Regions from separate parts of the Homo sapiens genome. Here region 2 is linked to region 1. The links come from fine-mapping of genetic effects on gene expression. A gene starts in region 1. The other region holds a variant in brackets. All regions are shown on one strand. Distances are from middle to middle.

Region 1 (5,354 bases):
ACCACCGCCAGCCAGTGAGCCTATCCGTGTCTCAGGAAGCGCCCTCTGCCCTCAGGGCCCTCTCAGGGGCACAGGCTCAGGGCAGAGGACCTAGGAACCTCCCTGTGACCTGCCCTGCCTGCCCAGAGGCGGGTCCAGGGCCTCCCAGGCCTTTGTTTTGCAGATCTCATTAGCGGAGACCTCTGCCTCCTGGAGGGGAGGCCAGAGCAGGTACTGGGGGAGGTTTTGGGGACGTTTTGGGCAGCCCCTGTGCCCGCAGTCCTCTGCTAGAGCCTTTCGGAACCTGTGTCTGTCCCGACCCCCCCTCCACCGGCGGCATCAGGGCTGAACAAAGTCTGACACTGGGGTTGACCATCCACTGACGTTGCCCTCTCCCTCCCAACCCCAGAGAGAATAGAGCCCCGCCCCCCACCTTCCCTCGCTGGGACTGGGGCACTGCCACGGCCCTGGGACTGGCTTCCAGGACGGAGGCTCCCGCCTGGCAGCACAGATCTCCCCAGGGAGGCCAGTGCCGAGGGCCTGACCCAGCAGGGGCGTCCTTGGTTAGAAAGGGTCCTCCGGGGCCTTGGGTGGGGCAGGCCCAGGGAGAGATGTCCAGTGACAGGGAAGGACACAACCGAGGGTCCGTCCTGCCTGCTGTGGGCAGTGGTATCAAGGACCGGGCCTTGCTGCCTCCTTGGATCAGAACGCCAGCCAGGAAGTCCTGTGGGTGCCCAGTGGCCCCTTCCAGGCACCGCCCCACTAAGGTGAAACCCTGCTCTTTCCTGCCCATCAGGAAGCGCCCAGGCCATGTTGCCAGGCCAGACTCCAGACAAGGCCACAGCCCTGGCCATGGGGCCTGGAGTGGGGGAGCTGGGCCGACGGGTGCCTGAATCCAGGGCTGCTGCAGGTGCAGGTTCCCACTCATCACTGTACCCTGCCAGGCTGCCCCCTCACCCTCTACTCTCTGCCCCCCTTCATGCCCAGCTGATGGGCATGGGGCTTTGTGCCTGTGCGAGGGATAGAGGGGGTTGCCCCATGGAGATGGGGGTGAGGAGTAGATTGCTGAAATGGGCATTAGGTATGCTAGAGACTTCAAGGAAGTGTGGGTGCCAGTCCAGCAGATCTCTGCAGGCAGGTGCTCCTGGAAGAGGGAGTGGCTGTGCAAAGAGGGAGTGGCCGTGCAAAGACGGAGGCCGGGGCAGCAAAGAGGCCTCGAGGCCGGGGCAGAGGAGCTGGCCTTCCCTCCAGGAGTGATGGGAACCACTGGGGGGACTTCGATGACCCAGAAAGATGGAGTGGGGGAAGACGTCAGCTGAGAGGCTCATTAGGAGGATGCCTGGGGCTGGGTGAGTGTTGGTTGGGAGCTCAGGGGGCCCATCTGAGCTGGGGATGCAAAGCGGGCCAAAGGCTGAGGCTGGGGCTCCACAGTTTTAAAAGCTGCAGACCAGGAGGGCGAGGGATGGGAGATTTAGGGAGCTGGAACCCGGGGCCAGGGATGTGTGAGCCTTCCCAGGAGGGGTCTGATACCAAAGGCCAAGTTAAGAAAATGTCTGAGGCCGGGCACAGTGGCTCACGCCTGTAATCCCAGCACTTTGGGAAGCCAAGGCAGGTGGATCACCTGAGGTCAGGAGTTCGAGACCAGCCTGGCCAATATGGAAAAACCCCGTCTCTACTAAAAATACAAAAATCAGCTGGGCATGGTGGTGGACACCTGTAATCCCAGCTACTTGGGAGACTGAGGCAGGAGAATGGTTTGAACCCAGGAGGCAGAAGTTGCAGTGAGCCGACATCATGCCATTGCACTCAGCCTGGGCAGCAAGAGCGAAACTCCATCTCAAAAAAAAGAAAAAGAAAGAAAAAAAGAGAAAACGTCTGAGAACCGACGGCTTGTATTTAAAACGTGTGAGTGGGTGGTGGCAGGAGAGGTAGACAGGGAGCAGGGCCGGCTTGGCGGAAGCTTTGCTGTAGAGAGGGGCAGAGATGGCTCGGTGGGTGGAGGGAGGGGCAAACGGTGTTTAAGAAGAAAAAACGACAGCTTCTGCGTAGGAGAGGGGCCTCCTGTCCATCTCCAGGGAGAACATGGGTTCTGTGGCCACAGGTCTCCCCAGGGCCTGGCATCAAGGAGGCGCCAGGCACGACCTGCGGGATGAAAGCACGTGGCTGAAGTCCTGGTGGCTGTGTCTGGGTGAGGGGTGTGAGGGCGTGGCCTGAGCAGGTCCACTCTCAGGGGAGAGGGGCCGAGGCCAGGAACTGGGTCTGGGTGTCCACCTGGTGCCTGGGTGAGGTCCTGCAGGCAGCAGGTCTGGGCTTCAGTGGATGCAGCCAGTAAGGGATGGGCTGATCAGGGAAAACCGTATTTTCAGGGGAGGAGCCCAGGAGGCAGGGAGCTGGGCGGCGGTGGAGGGGCCTGGAGGGCGATTGTCCAGATCAAGCCCCTCGAGTAAGGCCCGAGAGGCTGTGGCTTCAGAAATGAAGGTCATGGGCGACTCGGGCCAATGCCGCGTCCTTGACCTGGGCGAAGTGAGCGGTTGCACTCACGAGTGTGGACGGCCCTTCCCTACAGGGGACCTTGGATTCGCTGGGGGCGGAGTGGGGGCTGGGGCCCAGAGAACCCGAGTCCGGACGCTCCCGTCCGTGACCCTGGCCGGGTTCTCCGCTCCTCGCAGCTTCAGTCCGCAAGTGTGAGATGTCAGGGGACCCCTGGACGGCGGGGCCCTCGGGCTGGCAGCGCGCGCCGCAGGAGTTTCGATTCGGAGGGTCTGGGCGAAGGCCGAGAACTCGCGTTTCCAGCGAGTTCCCGGGGGCGCCGCTCCGTCCCAGAGGCCGGGGCCCCTCCGGTTGCCGGGCAGAGCCGCGCCGCGCGCGGTCCCATTGGCGCAGGTGCGCCGCGCCCCGCCCAACAGGTAGCCCCGCCCGACAGGTAGCCCCGCCCGCGCCTCGCCATTGGGCCGCGGCCGGGTGTCCCCCGAGGATTGGCCCAGGTGGCGGCCCCGCCTCGCCCTCATTGGCCGCAGGTGCCACCGCCCGCCCCGGGACCGCCCGCCCCGCGGATTGGCCGCTGGCTCCACCTCGGTCCGCCATGTTCGGACACCGCCCCCCGCCCCCGCCGGACGGTCCCGCCCCGCGCGCCCCCCGCTCCCGCCCCGCGCGCCGCCGGAGTTCCGCGGAGTTGACCGGGTCGGCGCCGTCGGTCCTGAGCGCTGCCTTCCGCGTTCCGCCGCGGCCCCACCTGGAGCCCCCGCCCCGCGCCATGGCCGGAGCTCCCGGGGCGCAGCGCTGACGGCGGCGGGGGGAGCGCGCCATGCCCAGCAGGACCGGCCCCAAGATGGAAGGGAGCGGCGGCCGCGTCCGCCTCAAGGCGCATTACGGGGGGTGAGCGGCGGAGAGGGCGGGGAGCGGCGCGGGTGAGGCAGGGAGGGCGGGGAGGGCTCAGCCGTCGGGGCTCCTGCGCGAGAGGGAGAGAGGGAAGGGGCGGCGAGGTCGCTGCGGGCCCGGGGCTGTCGCGGGAGGTCCTCGGTCCCCGCCCGTGAGCGTCACCCGCGGACACGTCGTGGACAGCGCGGGCTCCTTCCCCGGGACCGGGTTTCCCTGGGGTCGGCCCCGCGCCGCGAGCTCCTCGGCCCGGTCATTGTGGTAGACGTTTTCGCTGGAAAGTTGGGCGGGGACGTTCCGGCCGCAAACCTGTAAGGACTGAAAGTTTTCATCAAGTTGTGAAAACTCCTGGCGGGTTTCTTAAAATCAGCGTTTCCTAAACGTTCTCCACGTTTACCCGGTCGGGGGTCTCGCTTTAGCCAAAATCCGGAGACCCGGGGCGCGGGCGCTGTGGCTCCAATGCAGCCCCCGGCAGGGCTCGGGGCGGTCGGGCGGGGACAGGGGTTTCTGGAGGAGACGGTGGGGCCGAGACTGACCCTGGGGTTTGCGTCGCACCCGCCCCCCGGAGGCCCTTGCCTGGCTGTGGGAGGGGGCGCGGTCAGGTGCTGGAGCGGAGGGGTCCTGGACTCTTGGCCGCCGCCTCGGGGCAGCGCTGCTGGGGGTGGCGGGGGCTGCACCAGGTGGCCGGGCTCACAGGCACAGCGGAGGGGTCGCTGCCCCCCGAAGTGTGGGCGGTGGGGAGGGGAGGACCCGTGGGTTTGTTCTTCCACCTGTGCGCGTCTCCAGGAGCCCCGAACTGGGACCTCCGCTCCCGCGAGGGTGGCTGCTGCTGCAGAGAGGGAGGGGAGCAGAATGCGGGCTCCGGACTTGCACTGGCTGGTCCTTGGGATCTCGAAAAGCTGCTCCTGCCCCGGTGCGTCCTCAGCTACAGCGTGGGCAACCTGAGCCCCAGAGGCAGGGACGGCCGGCAGGGTTAGGCGGGTGACAACTTCCCCGGGCCACGTCCTCTCAGGACAGTGCCCCGGGGGTCTCTATGGTGCCCTGCGAGTCTGAGCGGGTTCAGCTTCCTGCGAACCTTGTCTTGGGGTCTCGGGTCAGCCATCTGGGGCTGCTTGGCCCCGGGTTTGTTGAGGAGGCTCAATTGTCTCTTCTTTGGGAAGGTTGGGGCCTCTGCAGCTCCCCTGTGGCAAGCACCTGGAACCTTCGGGGTGCAGTGGCCCGGGTTTGGTGCCAGAACCAGAAGAAAGGGATTTCTGGGGGACTGACCGTCCAGCCCTACCTGAAGAGGTAGGGCAGCCATGTCTTTTGGCCTGGAGGTCAGCAGGTTAAAACTTGGTATGGTTGACGTTCTGGCTATTGGACTTGTCCAGGGACCTGGGCTTCCTGTCTCCTTGCCATTCTGGAGCCACCACACTGGGCAACAGGTGATGGTGCGGAGCTCAGGGGAGTCCTGCGAGAGGGAGGTCCACACCCGAGGGGCTGCAGGGGCCCAGACCCTCCTGCATTCCGGCGTCCAATTCCTGGGACCAAGGCTCGGAGGCAATGCCACTGGAGTTCTGGGCCGCCCCGTCCTCCCTCTGCCTTGCTTTGGCCCCTGGGAGCACTTTGGTGGTGGGGCGGGTGTAATTCCACCCGGTGACTCTGGTTTCCCAGGCTGGAGAGACCAGGCTCCCACCCCTTCCTCTTCCCTCCCTTCCCGGACTCTCTCCCCTCTCTCCCCACCCCTTCCTCTTCCTCCCTCCTTCCCTGTTGTTTTCCCTCCTCTTCCCGCTCTCCCCTCTCTCCCTTCCCTGCCACACCTCTTCCTTCACCTTCCTCCCCCTTCTAGGGCACGTCTCCCCTCTGGCTCTTCCCTGCTCCTACCATTCCTTCTCTCCTCTCTCCCCTCCCAGGTCCTCCTCCTCTCTGCTGCAGAGTGTGAAGTACCCTTCTCCCCGTTCTGGCTCCTCGTCCCTCTGGGCACCCGGTGCCTCTCTGAGGGGACTGGCTGTGGGGTGGGA
Region 2 (5,354 bases), 62 kb after region 1:
CGGGGAAAGCCGTCATCCTGGAGCCGGGCGAGAGAGGGCCAGGGCAGTGGGGTGGACTCCAGAAATGTCCAGTAGCAGAATTGCCAGACCTGGCCATTGGCTGGGGTGTTGAGGGAGACGTCTCCAGGGATGTCCAGTGTCTCCCAGTCTGGGCAAGCGGAGGAGCCGGCCAGCATGGGCCATTTCATCGGGGCCCTCCCTGGGGGCAGCCAAGGACCTAAAACCAATGGGTCCCAACCAAGAGGATCCCAGAGGTGAGACACAGAACGGCCAGGGCTGAATCCGGGGCCCTCCCTGGGGGCAGCCAAGGACCTAAAACCAATGGGTCCCAACCAAGAGGATCCCAGAGGTGAGACACAGAACGGCCAGGGCTGAATCCGGGGCCCTCCCTGGGGGCAGCCAAGGACCTAAAACCAATGGGTCCCAACCAAGAGGATCCCAGAGGTGAGAAACAGAACGGCCAGGGCTGAATCTGCCTCCAGCGGGGGCCCCGGGCGTGATCAGAGCAGGCAGGACCTTTCTTCCCTCTCTGCAGCTCCGGCACTGGCTTCCTCCGTTCAGGCTTCATCCCCGGTCAGGGGGCTCCTGGTCCCGTGGCAGCCCCGTGGCTCCTGGGTCGCAGCTTCATGGGGGAAACAGAGACTCCTCTGGTACCAGGGTCCCCTGAATCTCCGGAGTCCCCCAAGTCCATTGAGTCCACTGGGCCCGAAGAGGGAAACAGAGACTCCTCTGGTACGAAGGTCCCCCAAGTCCCTGGAGTCCCCTGAGTCCACTGGGCCCTCGACACCCTTGGGTCACTTGTCCACCCTCACACCATCGCTGGCCCAGGGAATGGGGGTTTGGATCGGCCTTGGTGACTGTGGGCCTCTGCCTGAAACCCTGTGAGTGTGGGTGGGGTGGGCTGGGTCCTGAGAGAGCTGGGAGCAGCGGAGTGAAGGGGGCTGGGGTGGGGCTGGTGACAGTGGAGTCCCTGTGGGGGGCAGGGCTGGTGGACAGTAGAGTCCCTGTAGGGGCTGGTGACAGTGGACTCTGTGGGGCCAGGGTGGGGCTGGTGGACGGTGTAGTTCCTGAGAGACCGAGCCGGAAGGTGAGGGACTGGAAGCTTGCACACGTCCCTGCGGCCTTCCCCTCGGGTGCGAGGCCTGCCATCCTGAGCTCCCCCACCCTACCCCGTGCCCGCCCTGAGGGCGGGACCCAGGCCAGTTCACACAGCATGGCGAGGTAAGGGCTCAGGATGGAAGGCAGGAGGAAAGTTGGGCCTGCTGCACCCATGGGTATTGCGGCAGGGAAGGCGAGGAGGAGCCGAGGTGGGTGCTGGGAGCTGTGGGGCTGGCTGTGCGTGTTGGGCCTAACTCGGGCTGAGCTGAGGTTACTGAGCCCTCAGGAGGGTGCTGTGGGAAAAGAAAGAGGCAGAGAAGGTGTCTTTGGACCACTTAGGGGACGGGGAGGGAACCCCACGGCAACTGTGAAGGTCTGGGGCACAGCCAGGGAGGGTCCCAGGTTGACAGGGACAGGCGGGGTGGGGGTGCAACATGGAGGCCTGGGGCTGAGCCTCCGAGAAGTGATGGGCAGGATGAGGGGGCCAGAGGGGATCACGCAACAAGGGGTGCACCTTGGTGGTCTGGGTGTCTCCAGAGAAGCTGGTTGTCAGGACTCAAGAGGCGGACAGGGAGGGGCTGGGGTTAGGGAAGAGTGTGTGGCAGGGGGAGGAAGGGAGCCTGCTTGCCGGGTCACCTGGCATTGGGAGCTGTCCCCTGCCTGCTGCGCCCCGCCTGCCATTGTTGGAGTTCTCCAGTCTGGGCTGGTCTGGATGAGGAACTGGCGGGGCTGCTGCCGGCCTGGACTCAGGACCCTCACCCTCCAGCCCGCACCCTCGACTCCCCACCAGCCAGACCCTCTGTCCTGGTGTGGACAGCACCCACATCCTGGCTCCACCCTTGTTTCTTGCCCTTTGACCTACAGCCTCAGGACGTGCAGGAGGGAGGTACGTAGGCACTTGTGGGTCCGGCCTCCTGACCGACCGTCCATCCACCACCAGGCTTCTGGATGTTCACCCATGTGGGAGAGACGGGTGTCGGGGAAGGGACCACAGCTTCCTTTCAGAAGACCCGGGAAGGGCAGTGCCGTGTGCCAGCCTCCCAGTTGGCACCTTCCTTTCACCTTAGTCGTCTTCGAGGCGATGTTTCCTCGGGACAAGTCATTTTCATGAATCTGCTGTAAAACGTCTCCCAAACTCCAAGTGTTTCCCAAACTGAGTGAAAATCGCTGCAGAATGTGGTTTCCAGCAGAGCTTTTCCCCTCTCCTTCCTTCACCTCTGCCTGGGTTACAGGGTGCGGGTTCCAGGAGTCTGCCTAGAAGGCAAAAAACAGGCTTTGCTTAGAATCCCCTAAATTGCTCATAAAACACAGTGTTTGACGTTTATGTGTAGACATGATCCTTATGTGGGTTAAGCTGAGGCCCCTGCCCCAGTGACACAGAGGCCTCAAACGGCACAGTGCACCTTCTGTCCGAAGCAGCCGGCGAGGCGGCCCGCGAACCTCTGACGTGCTCCATTGCAATGAGGATGAACGAGCCTCAGGCGGAGGGTCAGCCTGGAACCCCTGCCCCGTGAACACCAGCCAGCTTCATGCTGAGGACCCCTCAGTCCAACCCAGAGGCCCATGCTGAGGTCCCGGCATGGGGGACTGTGGGGTGCAGCCGCCGCTTGGAG[C/T]GGAGGTGAATGGGACCCCACACGTTTCCTCCTCCTTCTCTGGATGCCTGTAATCATCACAGTACTCAAAAAAGGAAGAAGAAAAAGGTCCTTGAAACTTGCTGGAGTTGCAGTTCCGTTTTTTTGTTTGTTTGGTTGGTTGGTTGGTTTTTTTTTTTTTTGGAGACAGAGTCTTGCTCTTGTCGCCCAGGCTGGAGTGCAGTGGCGTGATCTCGGCTCACTGTAACCTCCACCTCCTGGGTTCAAGGGATTTTCCTGCCTCAGCCTCCCAAATAGCTGGGACTACAGGAGCTCGCCACCATGTCTGGCTATTTTTTTTCTATATTTGGTAGAGGCGGGGTTTCACCGTGTTGGCCAGGCTGGTCTCGAACTCCTGACCTCAGGCGATCCGCCTGCCTTGGCCTCCCAAAGTGCTGGGATTACAGGCTTGAGCCACTGCGCCCGGCCCCATTTTCTTTACATTTGTGACTTACAGTCATCAGCTGAAGGAAAGACAGTGGCTTGGCTAGGGCCTGCCCACTGCTGGCCGAGGCTGGCCGGGTCACCCAGGTGCCTGCCTCTCCTGCTCTGGAGCCGGGCACTGCCTGAGGGCCTGCAGCACCAGTCAGGGCCCCGGGGGATCCCTCCAGGGTCTCAGTTCTGACTAGCGAGTACCTCGATTCATGAGTATGTTTTTTAATGTAAGGTTTTAACGTAAGGTTTAAAAAGGCAGCCGCCCCGTTTCCTCCCCACTGGTCTCGCCTTCAGCAGTGATTTGTGGTGACTGTGACGTTCTCTTCGGTGGGCTGCCTGTGGATCGCCAAGTATGTGCTCCTGCTGCTTCTACCTGATGTCTCCCCATCTTGGGCTTTGAGGGGGGCTCATCCGGGGCATTCATATTTTCTGCCCGAGTTCGCTCCTGACCCAGGGCAGGTGGAAGCCAGCAGGTGAGGACCAGGGTGTCAGCCAGAAACTCGGAAGTGGCACAGAGGCAGCATCCGATAGCCCCTTTGTCAGAGGCGACCAGGGCCTTGAGTGAGCTGGGATGGACTTCTCTTATCCTGACATCCTGGAAGGGGGTGCAGCCTGCCTGTCTGTGTCCCAGTTGAGTTGGCAACATTTTTTGTCTTTCCTCATGATGCACGAAGTAGTGGTATCTCTGAGAGCCAATGGCAGCCTAGCTGCCGTGGAGAATGCTGGGGGGTGGGTGAGAGTTGGGGCACAGAGGACTCATGGGGCAGAGGCTGTGGTCCAGTCCTTGTGGGGGTGACTCCAGGGATGGCAGGTGGGTGGTGTGGCCAAGGAGGAGGGAGGTCAAGGCACTGGTGTTGGGGCAGGGAGAAGGGACCGCAGTGCCCATGTGTTTGAGGGAGGGGAGATGATGGTGTGGGAGTGTAGAGAGGGCGGGGGCCCAGCCCACAGCATCCATGCCCTGGGGATTGGGTGCCACCGGTCAAGGGCTCCACGGGGCTGGCTCTGGGGGAGGGAGAGCGGGCGCCATGTTGTGTGTGTGGTGCGTGTGGCGCGTGGGTGAGGGTATGGCCGGCTGCGTAAGTTTGTGGAAGCGTTCGGAATGCTCAGGAGATAAAAACAGCAGAGGGCTGCACCCCCCCACCCTCCCACCCCAGCTTTTCTCCAGGAGGACGCTCCGTCGTGGCCTGGGAGGACGTGGAAGGAGGGACCCCGGATGCAGGGCAGGTTCGTCTTGTGTGTTGAGAACGTGCTCTCCAGGGATCTGTGTTAATACAGGTAGCCCAAGCACAGTGTCCAATGAGGGAAGGAACATTTGAAACAGAAGAGATGACTTATTTTGTTGGACAAAAAAGGAATATGGTGGACATTAATTCTTAGAAGAGGTTTTATTTGAAACAAGTCACAAAAATAATCAAACAGCAGGTTGACTTTGGAGTTCAGCTCACAAAAGTTAAGCTTACAGAGCAAATAAAATAAGCTGAAGAAAAAGATAAGATGACTGGGCGCAGTGGCTCACGCCTGTAATCCCAGCACTTTGGGAGGCCGAGGCGGGTAGATCACGAGGTCAGGAGTTTGAGACCATCCTGGCTAACACGGTGAAATCCAGTCTCTACTAAAAATACAAAAATTAGCCGAGTGTGGTGGTGGACACCTGTAGTCCCAGCTGCTCGGGAGGCTGAGGCAGGAGAATCGCTTGAACCCGGGAGGTGGAGGTGGCAGTGGGCCGAGATCGTGCCACTGCACTCCAGCCTGGTGACAGAGCGAGACTCCGTCTCAAAAAAAAAAGAAAAAGAAAAAGAAAAAGCTAAGATGCAGCAGGTGGAGCCGCCTGCCGTTGGGTTTCAGCTTTTCTTATGGAAAGAATGTTACGGCCTGGGTGCCTCCATTCTCTGATTTCTTTTTCTTTCTTGACTTTTTAAAATTGAAACAAAACTCCCTAAAACATGAAATCTGAAGCGTTCAACTCCACGAGTTTTTACAAAGCAAACTGCACCGCGTCACATAGCTGATCCGTGTGTAGCTTGTCCTCTGGACGCGGGGCCACCCCCACACCCCGAGGTGACCCCAGGCGTAACCTACCCGTCCCCGGCCTTGGTGCCTGCAGATAGTTTTGCTTGTTTCGAGCTTTTGTCTTGGGATCCGGGGCCATCCACCCTGGGTGTGGCCGCTCAGTCGGGCCCCTGTGTGGGG

The links.
Region 2: its variant is fine-mapped to the expression of PRKCZ in whole blood (TOPMed, PIP 0.98).

What each region holds. Positions count from the first base shown.
Region 1 is chr1:2,047,348-2,052,701 of GRCh38, forward strand. PRKCZ (protein kinase C zeta) reads left to right here and starts at 3,064. Exons shown (of 18, transcript NM_002744.6): 1 at 3,064-3,354. The coding sequence starts at 3,284. PRKCZ-DT (PRKCZ divergent transcript) reads right to left here and starts at 2,723. Exons shown (of 3, transcript NR_135509.1): 1 at 2,521-2,723; 2 at 2,251-2,319; 3 at 1,854-2,121. It overlaps LOC105378590 (a long non-coding RNA gene), which reads right to left and starts at 100. Exons shown (of 4, transcript XR_007065357.1): 1 at 1-100. RefSeq lists an enhancer at 1-706 and a silencer at 2,642-3,251.
Region 2 is chr1:2,109,834-2,115,187 of GRCh38, forward strand. The region is part of intron 4 of PRKCZ (protein kinase C zeta); the gene reads left to right. Among named protein-coding and RNA genes, the nearest start is that of PRKCZ, 62 kb to the left of the region's middle. RefSeq lists an enhancer at 2,665-2,714. The variant C/T (reference allele first, on the strand shown) is at 2,712.